Regions from separate parts of the Homo sapiens genome. Here regions 1, 2 and 4 are each reported to be linked to region 3. The links are microRNA targets in miRTarBase. Many come from high-throughput screens and were not tested one by one. Region 3 holds a microRNA gene; each other region holds the end of a gene's coding sequence. Distances are between the middles of the regions.

What was found. The annotated mature microRNA hsa-miR-432-5p reads UCUUGGAGUAGGUCAUUGGGUGG and lies in region 3 at 2,244-2,266, opposite strand. An mRNA with a match to its seed (bases 2 to 7 or 8) in the 3' UTR can be bound and repressed. Matches are read on the target gene's strand: a 7mer-m8 pairs with bases 2 to 8, a 7mer-A1 pairs with bases 2 to 7 and ends in A, and an 8mer does both.
Region 1: miRTarBase lists RHOBTB3 as a target of hsa-miR-432-5p. Seed matches in the 3' UTR shown: 7mer-A1 at 3,614-3,620.
Region 2: miRTarBase lists SOBP as a target of hsa-miR-432-5p. The part of its 3' UTR that is shown has no 7-base or 8-base seed match.
Region 4: miRTarBase lists HEATR5A as a target of hsa-miR-432-5p. Seed matches in the 3' UTR shown: 8mer at 2,518-2,525.

The regions. Positions count from the first base shown.
Region 1 is chr5:95,792,511-95,796,510 of GRCh38, forward strand. It overlaps RHOBTB3 (Rho related BTB domain containing 3), which reads left to right. Exons shown (of 12, transcript NM_014899.4): 12 at 549-3,851. The coding sequence ends at 664. Among named protein-coding and RNA genes, the nearest start is that of GLRX, 28 kb to the right of the region's middle.
Region 2 is chr6:107,635,018-107,639,017 of GRCh38, reverse strand. SOBP (sine oculis binding protein homolog) reads right to left here. Exons shown (of 7, transcript NM_018013.4): 6 at 3,549-4,000. The coding sequence ends at 3,552. Among named protein-coding and RNA genes, the nearest start is that of SOBP, 150 kb to the right of the region's middle.
Region 3 is chr14:100,882,612-100,886,761 of GRCh38, reverse strand. MIR432 (microRNA 432) reads right to left here and starts at 2,279; the gene lies at 2,186-2,279. It overlaps RTL1 (retrotransposon Gag like 1), which reads left to right. Exons shown (of 4, transcript NM_001134888.3): 4 at 1,888-4,150. The coding sequence starts at 1,974. It overlaps MIR127 (microRNA 127), which reads right to left and starts at 3,783; the gene lies at 3,687-3,783. MIR136 (microRNA 136) reads right to left here and starts at 2,060; the gene lies at 1,979-2,060. RefSeq lists a silencer at 776-1,070.
Region 4 is chr14:31,290,018-31,294,017 of GRCh38, forward strand. It overlaps HEATR5A (HEAT repeat containing 5A), which reads right to left. Exons shown (of 36, transcript NM_015473.4): 35 at 3,874-4,000; 36 at 1,771-3,595. The coding sequence ends at 3,288. Among named protein-coding and RNA genes, the nearest start is that of HECTD1, 84 kb to the left of the region's middle.

The sequences.
Region 1 (4,000 bases), not on the chromosome of region 3:
AGCCAGGCGTGGTGGCTCATGCCTGTAATCCTAGCACTTTGGGAGTCCAAGGCAGGCAGATCACGAGGTCAGGAGATCGAGACCATCCTGGCCAACAAGGTAAAACCCCGTCTCTACTAAAAATACAAAAAATTAGCTGGGCGTGGTGTCACACGCCTGTAGTCCCAACTACTCGGGAGGCTGAGGCAGGAGAATTGCTTGAACTGGGGAGGCAGAGGTTGCAGTGAGCTGAGATCACGCCACTGCACTCCAGCCTGGGCGACAGAATGAGACTCCATCTCAAAAAAAAAAAAAAAAGAAAAGGAAAATAATGAAATACTACTCGAAGTAGTGGACAAGATATATATAATTGTAAGTCACATAATAACTTAAATCCTGATACTAATTTAACCAAAATGGTAGTAAATTATTTGGGAAAACTTGTGGGAATGGTAGGAGATGTATCACAGAGCTGGATCTCATCTATTAAAGAGGAAATCAATAGCTGATATCTTAATTGATCCATAATAAAACATATTCGGTTAACAGTCTTTTTCTTAAAACTTCAGTGGAAGAACGCAGTTTTGTTGAAAAGCACAGATGGCCGTCGAATATGTACTTGAAGCAGCTTGCGGAATACAGGAAGTATATTCACTCCCGGAAATGTCGTTGCTTAGTAATGTAACCTGGAGCTTTTATACACTACATTTCTTTTTTATTATTATGAAGAATGGGATACCTCCAGGTTCCAGTAAAATTCTTCTGACCGAAACCAATGTGGGTGTTAGAAAAATTACCATATAGCTTAATATGTTTATTAGTTCTCTTTGGAAAAAAACTACCACTGTGGTCTTAAAAGGGAACAAAATATACCATAGGCTAAAACTAAGGCTTTCACTCTAGAATGCAAAGCTGTTTTGCAGCTGTTTTCCCTTAAAGATGTCCTGTTGCTTTAGTGATATTTAGACCCCTCTCAGTTAAGAAATGCTTAGATTAAAAAAAAAAAATTACGTAGGATTAATACAGAAATTTAATCATGTCTGATTAATTGCTCTATTAAAATAAGGGGCATTTAAAGACCCAGCATAACCATTTGTATAATGAGAAATCTAGGGGAAAACCAATCAGTCCAACATGAGATTTTAGGAATAGAAATTTGCCGGCCATTTGGAAAGTGAAATGCCACTTAGTTCTCAATTGATGACAGTGTTTGAATCATCATAAAAAAAATACCTGCTTTTCATCTGGACAACCCAATTGAGCCACTTTATCTCCTTTTGGCAATCTGAGTAGGCGGGGAACCTAGGCAGGGCTGGCTTTCTTAGCGTGTAACTTGTGTAGCAGCACAGGGCCCACACTTAGAAGGACCCCACACTTGGTTCAAGGCTCTGCTATAGCGGAAATTCTTAATAATGTTTGAAGAAGGGCCCCATGATTTCATTTTGTGCTGAGCCCTCAAAATTATGTCTGTTTCGTGGTGGGAAATATCCTATGTTTTCTTGCTCAAACACCTTTCTCTCTGAAAGCAGAAAAAGGCACTGATATAAAGGGAAGAGAAGGAGGCTCACCGGAGGGAAGAGAACATAGTGAAGATTCCCGCCTTTGGGGAGGTCTGGACCACCCAGGGCCTCCACTGCCACCTTGGCTGGCAAGGGAGAAATGTGTTGTGTTGTCTTAGCTTTAAAACAGTCACAGTTCTTGCTCTATCATAGATGAACAAATACTTTCTTGATCATTCTGTAAGACCAGGAGGTTGGTAAGAGTGACTAACCAGCCTAACTTTAATACACATGTATAAAGATGTTCACAGAGAAAGATGCTCTGTAGAGAATTTGCTACCGAAGTTGGCTCAAGAATTTGTTTTTAGTGTTATTTACCAAGATTAGGACGTCAGTGGCTTAAATTCTTTGAATTCTTTTCAAGGACTGCAAGATTATTTGATAAAGAGTAGCATGAATCTTGTGCTCTAATATTACACAGTAAGTTCAAAGAAAGGATGTAAGTCAAAGACTTGTTACATAGAGGGAAAATGGACTGGGATAGAGGACAGACTGATAGTTTCTTTCTTTCATATCACATGTATAGAGAAATAATTATATCAGAAACTCACAAACCTAGACATGGAAAAACAGATTACTGTCTATTGTCAGCATCATTTTCATCTGTAAGTCACTACTGGAATATATTTTTCTTTTAATTTCCAGTGACTTTAGAATACACACAGTTTTTCCGACTTTTCAAAAATTTGATTAAATGGTTTTATAGTATAATATTGGGACCCCATACCGTTAGCCCTTGTATGTATACCAACACTGCCAAAGTAAAACATTAGGTCAGGCATGGTGGCTCAGGCCTGTAATCCCAGCATTTTGGGAGGCTGAGGCAAGTGGATAACTTGAGGTCATGAGTTCGAAACCAGCCTGGCCAAAACAGTGAAACCCCGTCTCTACTAAAAATACAAAATTAGCCAGATGTGGTGGCGCACACCTGTAATCCCAGCTACTCAGGAAGCTGAGGCAGGAAAATCGCTTGAACCTGGGAGGTGGAAGTTGCAGTGAGCCGAGATCGCACCACTGCACTCCAGCCTGGGTGACAAGAGCGAAACTCCATCTCAAAAAAAAAAAAAAAACCAAAGTGAAACACTAAAAATTCCCTATAGATATATTCCAGGAAATATTTTAATTGGGCTGATTTTAATTAGGCTGTATCATTGATGATTACTGGAATCGATTTTATGTCTTTTGTATTTTAATCACTTGAGTTAATCAACCACTGGCAAATCCCATTTGACAAAGATTAGCATTGTAAAAAACAGATACTGTGGTAGATTTCTAGAAATTCATTCACATTTAAGACTTCTAAAATGGAATAATAGCCTTTTGTTTTTCATGAGCATATTCGCACCCCTATATGAATTACAGCATTTAAAGTTCAAAATCAGTAACTTTTAATCTAGGAAATTGAAAAATATTAAGTTGCAAAGCAAAAAAAGGTATTTTCTTGAAAATACTATTTAATGTTTAACTAGACTATAGGTAGTTCCTTAAGGTTGTTTGACCTGAAGTGGAGTTGGGTTTGGAAGCTGGTGCCCAGTTGGTGTGGAGTGTGTAGTTTTGTTATGAAAGTTCTCTACCACCTACCTGTGTGAGTGACACCAACATCCAGATGTCACAGCTCTCCAGAGCTAGTCAGAAGAGAAATCAAATTAGTGTTTAAACCCATTTGCATATTGACTTGTCAGTACCTTTAACTCAATTTAATATAACAAGAAATCGTAAAATACTTATAACCTATCTTAGAGAAATGAGTGCTGGTTTTGAGAGTTGTTTTTTAACTGAAAGATTATTTCTAGATGGGTAGTGCTTTGTGCTGGTTTCTGCTTCCATATATTTCCCAGTCATTTTAATTAGAGAAGATACTCTATGGTAGAACTAAGGCCTTTCCTTTCTTGGCCAAAGTCTTTACCCTATTTAACCCTTTGTATATTTCTGACTGCTCACTGTTCATATTATAGGGGACCAGATTTGTAATATAGAATTCTCCATAACATGAATGAAATTAATTCTGTCCAAGCCAGCATGGTGGCTTCATATTAAGTAGTAACAGAAGTCTGAACAATTGGATAAATTTGACTTCCAAGACAGCTAAACTTTTCAACTGCAATTTTAAAAACTACACTACACTGTTATAGTTAATCTGACAAAAATGTCCTCAAAGAGTACTTTATTTTATTTAAAGCATCTGTTTAATTCAACCTTTAATAATTTTGCAAAGAAGGGTATGTGTGTATTTTAATATAGCCTGACCTGAATTTATATGTTTTTAGCTTTAGTATTTAACTTTTTGTAACAAATAAACCTTTTTTAAAACAAGTTTAACGAAGTGTCCTGTAATTATTTTACCTTGGATGTTGAAATACTGAAATGATTTGGAGAATGCTGCCTTGTATTTCTCAAGCATAATTATGCTTCATAGATAATTTTCATTATGTGTAAAATATCTAGAATGTTGCTGATACTAT
Region 2 (4,000 bases), not on the chromosome of region 3:
GGCAGGAGAATTGCTTCAACCCCGGAGGCAGAGGTTGCAGTGAGCCCAGATTGTGCCACTGCACTCCAGCCTGGGCAACAGACCAAGACTGTCTCAAAAAAATAATAAATAAAATAAAATAAAAATAATAAAATAGTACTACAGTATGAAAAAGGCAGACATAGTGAGAAGAATGAAGAGCTGACTGAAGTTATTGACAGATTATCCTATATAATATATAATGAATATATATGAGAAATAATATATAATGAATCACCAACAAGCACACGGAGAAATCATTCACCTGCACCTCACCCACCACATCTCAGCCTGAGTTTTGCTTTTGGTTTGTAACACTTTCCACTTTGGCTTTTAACTTGTCACCAGTGTTCAGCATCAGGGCACAAAAGCCATACGGTCCTTTATTTAGTGGATACACTTCCAATTTCCCCAACCATATGAACGGTCTGGGTTTCTGAAGGCATAGAAGAAAAACAGCACCACATGTGCACAAAAAAACAGGAAGGGGCCTGGGCACGTTGGCTCACACCTGTAATCCCAGCACTTTGGGAGGCCGAGGTGGGTGGATCACCTGAGGTCAGGAGTTCGAGACCAGCCTGGCCAACATGGCAAAACCCTGTCTCTACTAAAAATACAAAGATTAGCTGGGCATCGTGGCGCGTGGCTATAACCCCAGCTACTCAGGAGGCTGAGGCAGGAGAATCACTTGAACCCAGGCAGCCGAGGTTGCAGTGAGCCAAGGTCGCGCCACTGCGCTCCAGCCTGGGTGACAGATTGAGACTCTGTCTCAAAAAATAATAAATAACTAAATAAATAAATAAAACAAACCAGGAAGGGCCAGAGAATGTGAGTAAATTGTGGCAGGTTGAGACTGTGCTGTGAGGTGACACGGAACTTCTGAGGGCAAGAGGAAATGTGATTTAGTGGAGGAGAGGTGGTTTTTCCCCCATCTTAAATCACTTGCCTTGTCACCCTTTCGTAGCTGACAAAGCCTGAGTATTTCTGTATTTCTGATTTTAAAGAAAAGCTGTAATTTCTTGGGGGACCCATCATTGAAAGAACTCTTCAATCTCAAGAGGTAGTGGGCAATTTCATCACCACATCTTCTGAAATTGGCTGGAGCCAGGTTGATATTTTTAATGATTCTGGTCCACATACAAGACTGATTCTTTATTCAGAAACATATATCATCCAAATAGCCATCGTGTATTTTATGTTTTTATGTTATTTTGGTCCCAAGCTACTCATATGTTAGTGTCACTATTCTTGACCTGGTCACTTCTCACTCCAATGATGGTATAATAGTAAAATCTCTCACCCTCCCATTCTTCTTCTTTTCAGCCTCACCTGAATGAGTGATATTAGAATGTGTTTAAAGTGACAATTCCCAATGCTTTCTGACTTTCTGAAGGCCGTCACTTTTTTTGTCACACATCTTCCCATTACTCACAGCTTTGTCAACCAGATTAAATTACTCTCGTGAAGAAATCAGGGGCATTTTCAATTGAGGTGACTGTGAGAAGGCTGAGGCCATCTGTCTTCAGGCAGCAGAACTTGTAGATGTAAAATCAAGAAGGAATGGTGAACTCATTTTTAGTATTCTTCCTCTACTGGCAAAGCCATCAGAGGAAAAGGAAACCTCGAACGATGGTGGCTGAGAAACCTTTCTTCCTCAACTGACAAGTCTCCTTGCTCTGGTCTGTGCTTCCCAAGCAATCTCCTGGCTATGCTAGGGGCCCAACTTAGAGACCAGGGACTGGACACACCACAGCAAGTGCTGTGCTCCACGTTTGTATTTCCCACTGTGGAGTAATGGGTTGGTAATTTAGGCTTGTTGGTGCTGCAGAAACAAGAATTCAACTGTCTGAACACTTAGAGAAGTTAGGAGGTAGACTCAGTTTTTGTTTGTTTTTTAAGAAACTTTCCCCTATGACAACTGAGGGTTGTTTTACCCACTGAGGTGGGTAAAACAATTTTAGTATGTAGGGTAATAAAGAAACTAATTAGCCTATTCTCCTACAGTGGTTTTTTAAAAAATGCAGCTCTGGAGTCAGACAGCCTGGATTTGCATCTCAACTCTGCTAATTTGGTAAAATCTTGGGCAAGTTACTTTAATGTCTCTGTCTTGGTTTCCTCATCAATAAAATGAAGACGATAATTGTCCTATGGACCCAGATCCAAATAAATACTACCGAAAAACACTTAGAAGACAGCCTGCATACAAATGTGAGCAATTATTCATCTTACGAGATCCACTCTCCTGGCCCCCGCTTCCTTCCTCCTGGAGTTTGCACTCCCACCAGATGGGGGCACGCCATCATTTACCTTTGTATCTCCCTAGTCCCTGGAAGGAGCAGTGTACAAGTTAGGTGCTCAATAAATGCTCATCTCTCCTCTTCCTCTCCATAAGAAGTTGATAAACTCAACTGAATTTTGGCCTGTTTGATGCCCGCTTGGATAGACGGGAGAGCTTGGGCTGTGTCCAACAGGCCTGAGTTGAATACGGCTTCCCCACGTACCAGCTCTGCTTCGGGCACAGTATCTAAGCTTCATCTGCCTCCTTGGTGAGATACAGATGATGCCTATTCCACCAGAATTGGCAGGAGGAGCAAATGAGGCCACCTCTGCCTATGACAGGCACACATGTTAGTTCCCCTTCCCAATATTGAAAAATTTAACTCACTCTTGGCGGCTCACTTGGCATTAGGCAGGAGTCTGTCTATGAGGTCAGAGATGTGCAGTGTCACTCACTTTAGCAATGCCACCCTCTTCCCTATCGAAGCCTCCCATTACCTGCAAAGGTGAGCAACTCATCAGCTAAGCCGCTGGGCCCCAAAAGGGGGAGAGAGCAAAGCTGGTCAGTGACGCTTGAGGCCTACCCTGGGGGATGCTGCTTGGTGCCAAACTGCAGGAAGGAGACCCCATGAACAGGAAAGACACCCTGCCAGGCAAATAGGACTCAGTGGCCTGGGTTCAGTTGACATATGCATGTAAGAGTTAGGTTTCATTCTCACTTTACAAATGGAATCCCGTCCTTATCAAGAAAATTTGGTGACATTCTGCCAATGAGGCAACCAGCTCTATTTAGTAGGTGGCCCAGCTCATGGGTTCACTGGACATTTCACCACTGCCCTGCAACCTCATGATCACACATTTAGGTGTCCCAAGTTAATCTCTTCTCCCTCCCCCCATCCTCCTCTTCTCCAATAGGGTGATTTACGGAGATGAGCATGATAATAAAGTGTAATTGGAGAGACAATATTTCATGACAGGTTGGAGACTGAGCTCTCCCCTCAAGTAAGTGACCCGGGGCTTGGCACTCACATGCTGTGGCTCAGTTTCCTCGGCTGTAAAATGGGAATGATGCTACTGAACAACTCAGCATCAGAGCTGCTGGCTCAGAATGTTGATAGCGTGACCACACCGTGTGCAATATAAAACACACACGGTAAAATCATGACTATAATTACAACTCTCCCCTCTGCCTTGTCAGAAGTAAGGAGAGGTGCACTGGCTGGTGTGGAGGAGCGCCCGGCGGACATACAAACCTTTTACTTATTCTGATTTCTAATTCGGAGGCACCTCCTTTTGAGCGGCGGCTCCAGGTCCTCAGGCCCGGCGCTGAGCATGGGCGAGGAGATGATGCACGGTGCCATGGCAGCCTTCTCCGCGGGTTTTGGCACAGGCTGGATCACGCAGCCGGTCTTGGGCAGCATCCGCAGAGCATAGGCATGGTCCTCGTCCGCGGGGTTATTAAGGTTCGGGTCTGACTTGTCGCCCCCCGCCAGGGCCTCCTCGCCCATCAGCTTTTTGGCCGCCTCCCCGTCCAGGTGGCAGTTGGAAGCACAGTTATTCTCCTTGACCGACTCTAGCTCGCTCACCGCCGGTTCCTCAGGCGACAGCAGCTTCTTGGGGGGCGCGGGCGGCGGCGGCGGCGGCGGCTGCTCGGGAGGCGGCTCCGCGCTCTTAGCGCCCTCGGCGGCGGCGCCGCGCGTGCCGT
Region 3 (4,150 bases):
GAATTACTTAGTTTTTGTATTTCAATTAGAATTATTTATTTGTATTTCAATTAGAATTTTATATTAGAGGTTTGGAATTTTACAGTAATAATGCATATCTCAGAGGACTTTTATGGAGAGGAAATGAGTTAATTTCTGCAATGTGCTATGTACATCATGATGATGATGATGATGATTCTTATAATTCCTATACCATGCTGATTTGTATACTGTGCTTTAAAAAAATGTGATCTCTACCTTGAGGAATGACAAAATAAGAATTTTATATTATATTAAGGCCCTTACATTTTAACCAGAGAATAGTTTTGGTGAGTTTACATGTCAGATATGTTTACGCTAGAAGGTTTGGATTTAATATTGCAGACAGTAAATAAACAGTGGAAGGCTTTAATCAGAGAGACTGCATGATCAAATTTAAGTGTCATGCTAACAAGGGTGTACTTAATTTTGAGAAACAGCAGATCTGAATTTTGTATCCTGTTGGAAAGCTTGGATTTTAGCCAATGAGTTTCACGTAAGGGGGAACGCAGTTTTTTTTTTTTTTTTTACGGATGGGTCCAGTGGCTTAGAAGAAAACTCAGAAGTAACAAAAGGTGTTAAATTTATAAAGAGCAGTAGCTTTACAGTTAATCTATCAGATAATCAAAGCTTAATTTGCTCTGCCCCAGCAGAGAAGAAATGTGCAAATAACCCCAACCAAGACATTCCCTTTCAATTCTGTCTCAGCCCACTAAAACCACCCAACACTAGATTTCCAAAAATCCACTCTGGGACCGTCAGATTCCAAAGATGTCACATGTTCCCCCCAACCCCCACACTCAATGTCCCAACTCTGCCAGATACATGTCTGTTGGGAGGGCTCAACCAGCAACAGAGAGAAAAAGATATTTGCTAGAAAGAGGAGACCAGACCCACTGGCGTTAAGAAGGGGACCTGGGAGGATAAGATTGGAGAGGCGTGCAGATATGCTTGCACTGGTGAAATTGAGGCCAGATGTGTGAAGTTCCAGAAGCCTCACAAAGAGGGCAGTCCTGGGAGAGTGGAGATTGTAGGAAGAGAAGGAGATTATTTGAAGATCTCCTCAACAGCTCAGAGGTCGGGAGAACATAGCATTGGAAGGAGACCAAATCGAGAAAGAGAAATTGGCCAAAAGTCTGAGTTAGAATCAAGTAACAAATATGCAGTTATCCAGCACATAGTAGGTATGTTATAAAATTTATGGAAAAAAAAAAAAAAAACCCAGACCTGTACACACCCCCTGAAATTTCTATTTTGAACATGGGGAAGGAAATAAGAACTATTTTGGGCTGCTGACCCAACTGACGGGACAGTGGCCAAGTGCCCATTTTCTCCTCTTCCACTGCACTGGTGAAACAGTAGGCATCTTTGCTAGAGATTCCCGCTCCACAACCAAGGTGGCTGGGCTTGCTCCAGAGCCCTGAGCCTGCCAGGGGTGGCTTTGGATGGTGCTGAGATGTGACCTCTGTGATTCTCAGGTGACCAAAGCAGGAAAAGAGGATTGACCAGGTGCATGTGCCAGGGGGGAATGGAGCAGCCTGTGCACCCTGCCAGGTACCCGCCTGCCACGGTGGCTGCTCCCAGCCACAGAATTTATGGGCTGTGAATTTCTCACATCTATGGAGGAAAAGGACAGGACAGGCAGACTGAATAAGCCTGGGAGGCAGGTCAGGGGTTGACAGATCTTCCCTCCCTGGGGGCACCCCAAGTGACCAGCCAAAGAGGCTGGCTCGATACAAGAAGGCTTTCCCCCATTTCTCTCTGCTCTGATTAGTTGGGCATCTGATTTGTCCTTGAGACCCTGATACTGCCACTTCACAAGATCCTAAACTACTGCCTTTACTCCCCACACTCCCCTTCCACCACCAGGTTCTGATCTCCACGGTCCCAGCTACTGACTGGACGCCATCACAACCTTACCAATCTTCAGAATACACTCCTTTCCATCCGACGAAATGATAGAACCCTCTGAAGACTCATTTGAGACGATGATGGAGCATAAGAATCCATCATCAAAACAAATGGAGTCCTCCGAGGGCTCATCCAACACCACCGAGGCGACGTCGGGCAGTGGAGTGCGGGGAGAGGCAGGGCCAGCCAGCGGCCCAGCCCAGGAAAAGAAGGAGCCCCCCAGTGGCCCACTCCAGGAAATGGAAGAGCTGCCCACTGATCTACTCCAAGACATGGAGGAGCCATCCAGTGGCCCACGTAAGGAAATAGAGGATCCACCCAATGACCTACTCCAAGACCTGGAGGAGTCATGCAACGGTTCACACCAGGCAAGGGGGGATCCACTCAGTGGAGCATCTGATAGGATGAAAGAAGCATCAGTCAACCCATCGGGAGCCCGAGAAGAACAAGAGGCTCACACTGACCTGAAGGAATCGGGAAGGGAGGAGACTCCTCAAGAGCAAAACCAGACCGAGCACTCAACCGCAGAACTTATGGCCATGGTGAGGTCCATCATCTCGCTGTACTTCCGAATGCAAGACCTCAAAGAGCAACAGAGAGTAGCAGAAGAGATCTTGATCAAAGGGATCAATGCAGGCCAACTGCCCGCCCCAAAGCACTTCTCTGGCGATCGCAGAGAATTCCACGAGTTCATCGTACTCTGCCAACTGACCTTACAGAGCTACCCAAGAATGTTCTATAACGACCGTCTGAGAGTTGGCTATGTCATCAATCACCTGTCCGGCTTGGCATTAGAATGGGCCAAAGCTCTACTGCAGGAAAACAGCCCCCTGATCGGAGACTTCCCAGCCTTCCTGGAGGCCATGTCCGAAGTGTTTGAGTACCGCCAGGCACTGCGTGTGGCAGAAGAGGCCATGTTCACCATCAGGCAGGGCGGCCGCTCTGCCACTGAGTACATCGATGAGTTCCAGAGCCTGGTACCCATCTTGGGCTGGCCAGATGAAGTCCTGCAGGCCCACTTGTGCCAGGGGCTCAACGAGGAGATCAGGCACTATCTATTCCGGGTCCCTCAGCCGGATTCCCTAGACAGTCTGATTGTGCTCATCCTGCAAATAGAAGAGAAGCTGGCAGAGAGAAGAGCTATGCTCAGGCTGCCCCCCGAGGCCCGCCCCCGGAACCTGACCTGGATCGACTCACCTGCTCCAGAGAGGTGGATGGTCAGCAGCTGGTTGCCCAGCGAAGTCCATCCGGACATCAATCGCGCCCACCTCTTCCTGCTGCTCATGGTGAGAGTGAACCCCTACCACAGCGTCGCGGTCCAGGCCCTGGTGGATTCGGGAGCTGACGGCAACTTCATGGATGAGAAGTTCGCCCAAGAGCACTACGTCGAGCTCTACGAGAAGCCGTACCCACAGCCGGTCCAATCCGTGGACGGCTCGCTGATTGGCAACGAGCCTGTCTGGCTCTACACGGAGCCCCTGGTGTGTATCCACCAGAACCACCAGGAGTCCATCGAATTTGACATCGTACCTTCACCGAACTTCTCTGTGGTCCTAGGCATCCGCTGGCTCCGAGTCCACGCCCCCGAAGTCGACTGGATCAAAGGCCGCTGCACCTTCCACTCTCCCTACTGCCTGAAGAACTGCTTCCGCCCGCCCCCGCCATGCATTGCCCTAGAGAGGCACGGCATGAGCCTGCTACCCGGACTGCCACACCCATACTCAGACCTGGCCGACGTGTTTAACCCGAAGGAAGCAGATGATGAGACTTCCGACCAGCCAAGCTCAGACGGATCCGATGATCTTTCTGAATCAGAGCCCTCTGAGCTTCAGCAGGCTGGAGACAGTGATCACAGCGAGACCTTTTACGAGTGTCCCTCCACCGCGCCTTGGGAACCTGTGGGTGCCAGGATGCAAGAAAGAGCCAGGCTACAGGAGGAATACTGGGACCTGCAGGACATGCTGACCAACAGACAGGACTACATACAGATGATTCCGGAACTGTTTGACCAGTTACACGGAGCCGAGTGGTTCACAAAACTGGAGCTGCGTGGGACCATTGTGGAGGAAAGCGTGAACGGGCACCGCACCGAAGATGTGTGGAAAGCAGCGTTTGGTTTGGAGCTTGAAGAGATGAAGAGCTACCAGCCGTTTGCGCTCTCCCCAGACCCTATCATACCTCAGAACGTGATTCACTTCATCCTAAAGGACATGCTAGGGTT
Region 4 (4,000 bases), 70 Mb from region 3:
GCTAATTAATATGCAACTGCTTTATTACAACTAGACTCATTAATATCTAAGCATATAATCTATTCCCATAGAAACTGTAGAGGGCAGGCCAGGTACAGTGGCTCATGCCTGTAATCCCAGCACTTTGGGAGGCCGAGGCGGGCGGATCACCTGAGGTCAGGAGTTCAAGACCAGTCTGACCAACATGGACAAACCCCGTCTCCCCTAAAAATACAAAATTAGCCAGATGTGGTGGCACATGCCTATAATCCCGGCTACTTGGGAAGGCTGAGGCAGTAGAATCACTTGAACCTGGGAAGCAGAGGCCATTGCACTCCAGCCTGGGCAACAAGAGCGAAACTCCATCTCAAAAAAAAAAAAAAAAAAAAAAGAAACTGCTGTAGAAAATAATTAAAAAAAAACTTTTTCCCCTATTCTATTAGCGAAAGACTTTTTAGTTGTAATTTGGAGAAATGTAATTGAAAATATCTTCAACAAAGAGTGAGGAAGGCTCCTGAGGGAGCCCGGAGCGCTGAAAGAGGAGAAAAGCTATACCTTGATGGAATCGGGATTGCCAGTTTTCCTGTCTCCAGCATGAATGCTTGGGATCAGAAAGATGAGTTCAAACCCCAGCTGTTAAGCCTTAATTTCATTATCAGTAAAGATACATTTAATAGTTCAGGGTTGTATTAAATAAGGCGATTTAAGGAGATACATTTAAGAGTAGCTCAAATTTCCTAATTCCATTACACTGGACATAAAAGGTTTTTTTCCTAATTACTGACGTTCATATAAGCACCTTTAATCCAAATAATTCAGGATACTAGAGTACTGAGTAGAAATCTTAATGTGTAAGAGCAAACTAAATGAAACAGCTAAAACAGACAAAACACTTTTTTAAAATCCCTAAGTCAAATTAATTAGTTACATCCTGAGAACAACCTAGTTCAGCATTTGCCTTGGCAAAGAAGTTATGAGTCCTCATCCATCCTGTACCAGTGCAATTCAATAGCTATTAAGTGAGCCAAGTTACAGAAGACATAATTTCTCCCTATGAAGTGGTACAGTCTAAGAGGGAGACAAGATAATATTAAAATGCAATGTGAGCTGGGTGTGGTGGCTCACACCTATAATCCTAGCACTTTGGGAGGCCAAGGTGGGAGGACAGCTTGAGCTCAGGAGTTTGAGACTAGACTGGGCAGCATATGAGTGAGACCTCATATCTACAAAAAAAATTTTTAAATTAGGCTTGGAGACACACATCTGTAGTTCCTGCTACTTGGGGGGCTGAGGCAGGAGGATCACTTGAGCATAGTAGGTCAAGGCTGCACTGAGCTGTGTTCACACCATTGCATTCCAGCCTGGGCAACAGAACAAGACCTTGGCTTAAACAAACAAACAAACCACAAATTGCAATGTGATTTTTTATGCATACAAGAATGTATTAAGCACTATGGAAACACAGATGAGGAAGCAGTTAAATTGGTGTAAGAGGAAGTTAAGAAGTGTTAAGGAGAGTTACCAAGGAAAGGTGATATTTAAGCCAGGCCTAAAAGGAGTGGGCAATCACCAGACAGAAGACAGGAGAGAAAAGGACATTTTAGGTAAAGGGAACAATAAATATACACTCAATGCCTAGAGACACTTAGGAAGAGACAGAGAATCTAAACCATCACAAATAATGCTCCAAAGAAAGGGCTCTTCTGAGAAAAAAGGCTGATTTTCTGGAATCCATGTGAGAGAAACCAACCTGCCATCTTTTGTTGGTAAAATAATTTAAAAATACAAGAATGATAATGAAAATTAGCTTTATTTATGTAATTTAGAAAAAATGATTGTAGTGTTAGAGTTTGTCAAATGTTTTCACTCTGAACAATTTACAATAGTATTTATATACAAACATAATAAAATAGGTACATCACATTGTTCTTGCTTCAAAATGTCTTCTCAATTCTGACATGCTTCTATCACTTCGGTTTGTAATTTTTAAGAGGGAAATGCTCTGTTTTGACACAGTGCTTGATTCACACAGTATAACACTGAAGTAGAAGGAGAATCAACAATCATGAACACAGTTAAAAAATATTTTTCAACCAATATGACTTTATCATTAATCTTTTTTCTATAATAAAATGTTTCCTGTTAAAAAAAATACTTGTATTCACCTGATGACCTAAATTTGTTGTACTAAATTTGGCATTTATATAAACCCATAGTTGATCTAAATACAATGTAGATATGAACCTAGGTTAAAACTCATTGATACAAATGTTTGCCACAAATGAAAATGAACAAAATTGGTAAGAACAGAGGTAAACAGAAAAATCCATTTGAAAAATAGTGGAAATGGCTTATTCTATTTAAAATGAGTAAGACTCAATTTCTGAACCCAATATAAACTAAACCAAAAGATGGTGGAAAACCATGATATAGACACCAAATCTTATGTTGCACTGTAAGGCTGTAAGTAATTTGTACTATTGTATACTGGATAATCCTAGACCAGGTTTCCTAAATAGCTCTCCAATCATTTTATCTTCTTGGAGAAATCAGAGAAAGTTTAATACAATTACTGAATAAGGCAGAATTTTTTTTTTTTTTTTTTAGATGGAGTCTCACTCTGTCGCCCAGGCTGGAGTGCAGTGGCACAATCTTGGCTCACTGCAACCTCTGCCTGCCAGGTTCAAGCGATTTTCCTGCCTCGGCCTCCTGAGTAGCTGGGATTACAGGTGTGTGCCACCACACCCGGCTAATTTTTGTATTTTTAGTAGAGACGGGGTTTCACCATGTTGGTCAGGCTGGTCTCAAACTCCCGACTTCGTGATCCGCCCGCCTTGGCCTTCCAAAGTGCTGGAATTACAGGGATGAGCCACTGTGCCGGGCCAAAGCAGAATTTTAAATCAGCAATTGGGATACAATATTAGTGCAGATAATTTACACTAGAGTCATATTTATATCTGTCACAGTATTAAGTATACCACATATGTATGGACTGTTAGAAGAAATTCATTTCATTTTTAAAGCAGTGGATTGTTTAGTAAGTTTAGTTCTTTAGCACTTTCTTAAAATTCCTGGCAAGTTAGCTCCATTGTCTTTTTAAATAGAAAAACAAAACAAAACAAAACACAAACCCCACGCACACACACAAAAATGTTAAGTATGCTGTTACTTTGAAGAGTCACAGCTATTTAAGGTAAAACAATCAACTAGACCTCTAAGGGCACTTGTGTCTACAATGTCCCTTTTGTCACCAAAGGCAATGATCAAGTATTTATTATATTAAGGTGCTTACTATTCCAAAAAAAAAATCAGAGGAAACTGGTCTTTAATTGGATGCTTGAGTTTTTTCCAGGACTCTTAGTATATTTAGATGTTGGTATCTTGACTTTGACACTTTCCTGATTGCCCTTTATAGCAGCCTCAAGGCGGGCTTTTAGGGCTGGAGAAGAAGCCACTAAACTTTTAAAAACAGATGAATACTGAGGTCCAATTTGCATGAGATTTTGTAGAGCAAAGTCATGTAAATTTCTCATTATGGAAGTTGCTGATCCCAGAGAATTTTCATCCAAAAGGAAGGAAATGAGGATGGGCAAAAGACAGGCCACCAGCTGAGCGCCTAGAAAGTAAACAAATAATATAAGTTCAGTGACATAAATGTTTCTAACAAAAGCCTGCAAATGCACTTGATCTGTATACATTTTTCCCCACTAAAGAAAACAATTCGTCCAATCTCTTCTAAATTAATACTAAATAATATCAATACTTGGGATTAACATAACACCTTTCAATGAATGTGAAATACAGATATAATGTGACTGATTGTTTTGCAATTTAAATAACAGTAAAATTCTGATTTTTGTTGAGACTGAGTATGAATTTAGTGCTGACACTTACGATGGTGTTCTTCAGCAACAGTAACCAGTGTTTCTAAGACCTTTATGCCTTCTTGGAAGATCTCAAGCTCAGCAGTGTTTTCAGGTTTTCTCTTGTCTATTTCCTGCAGTTTTTCCATGATACAGGA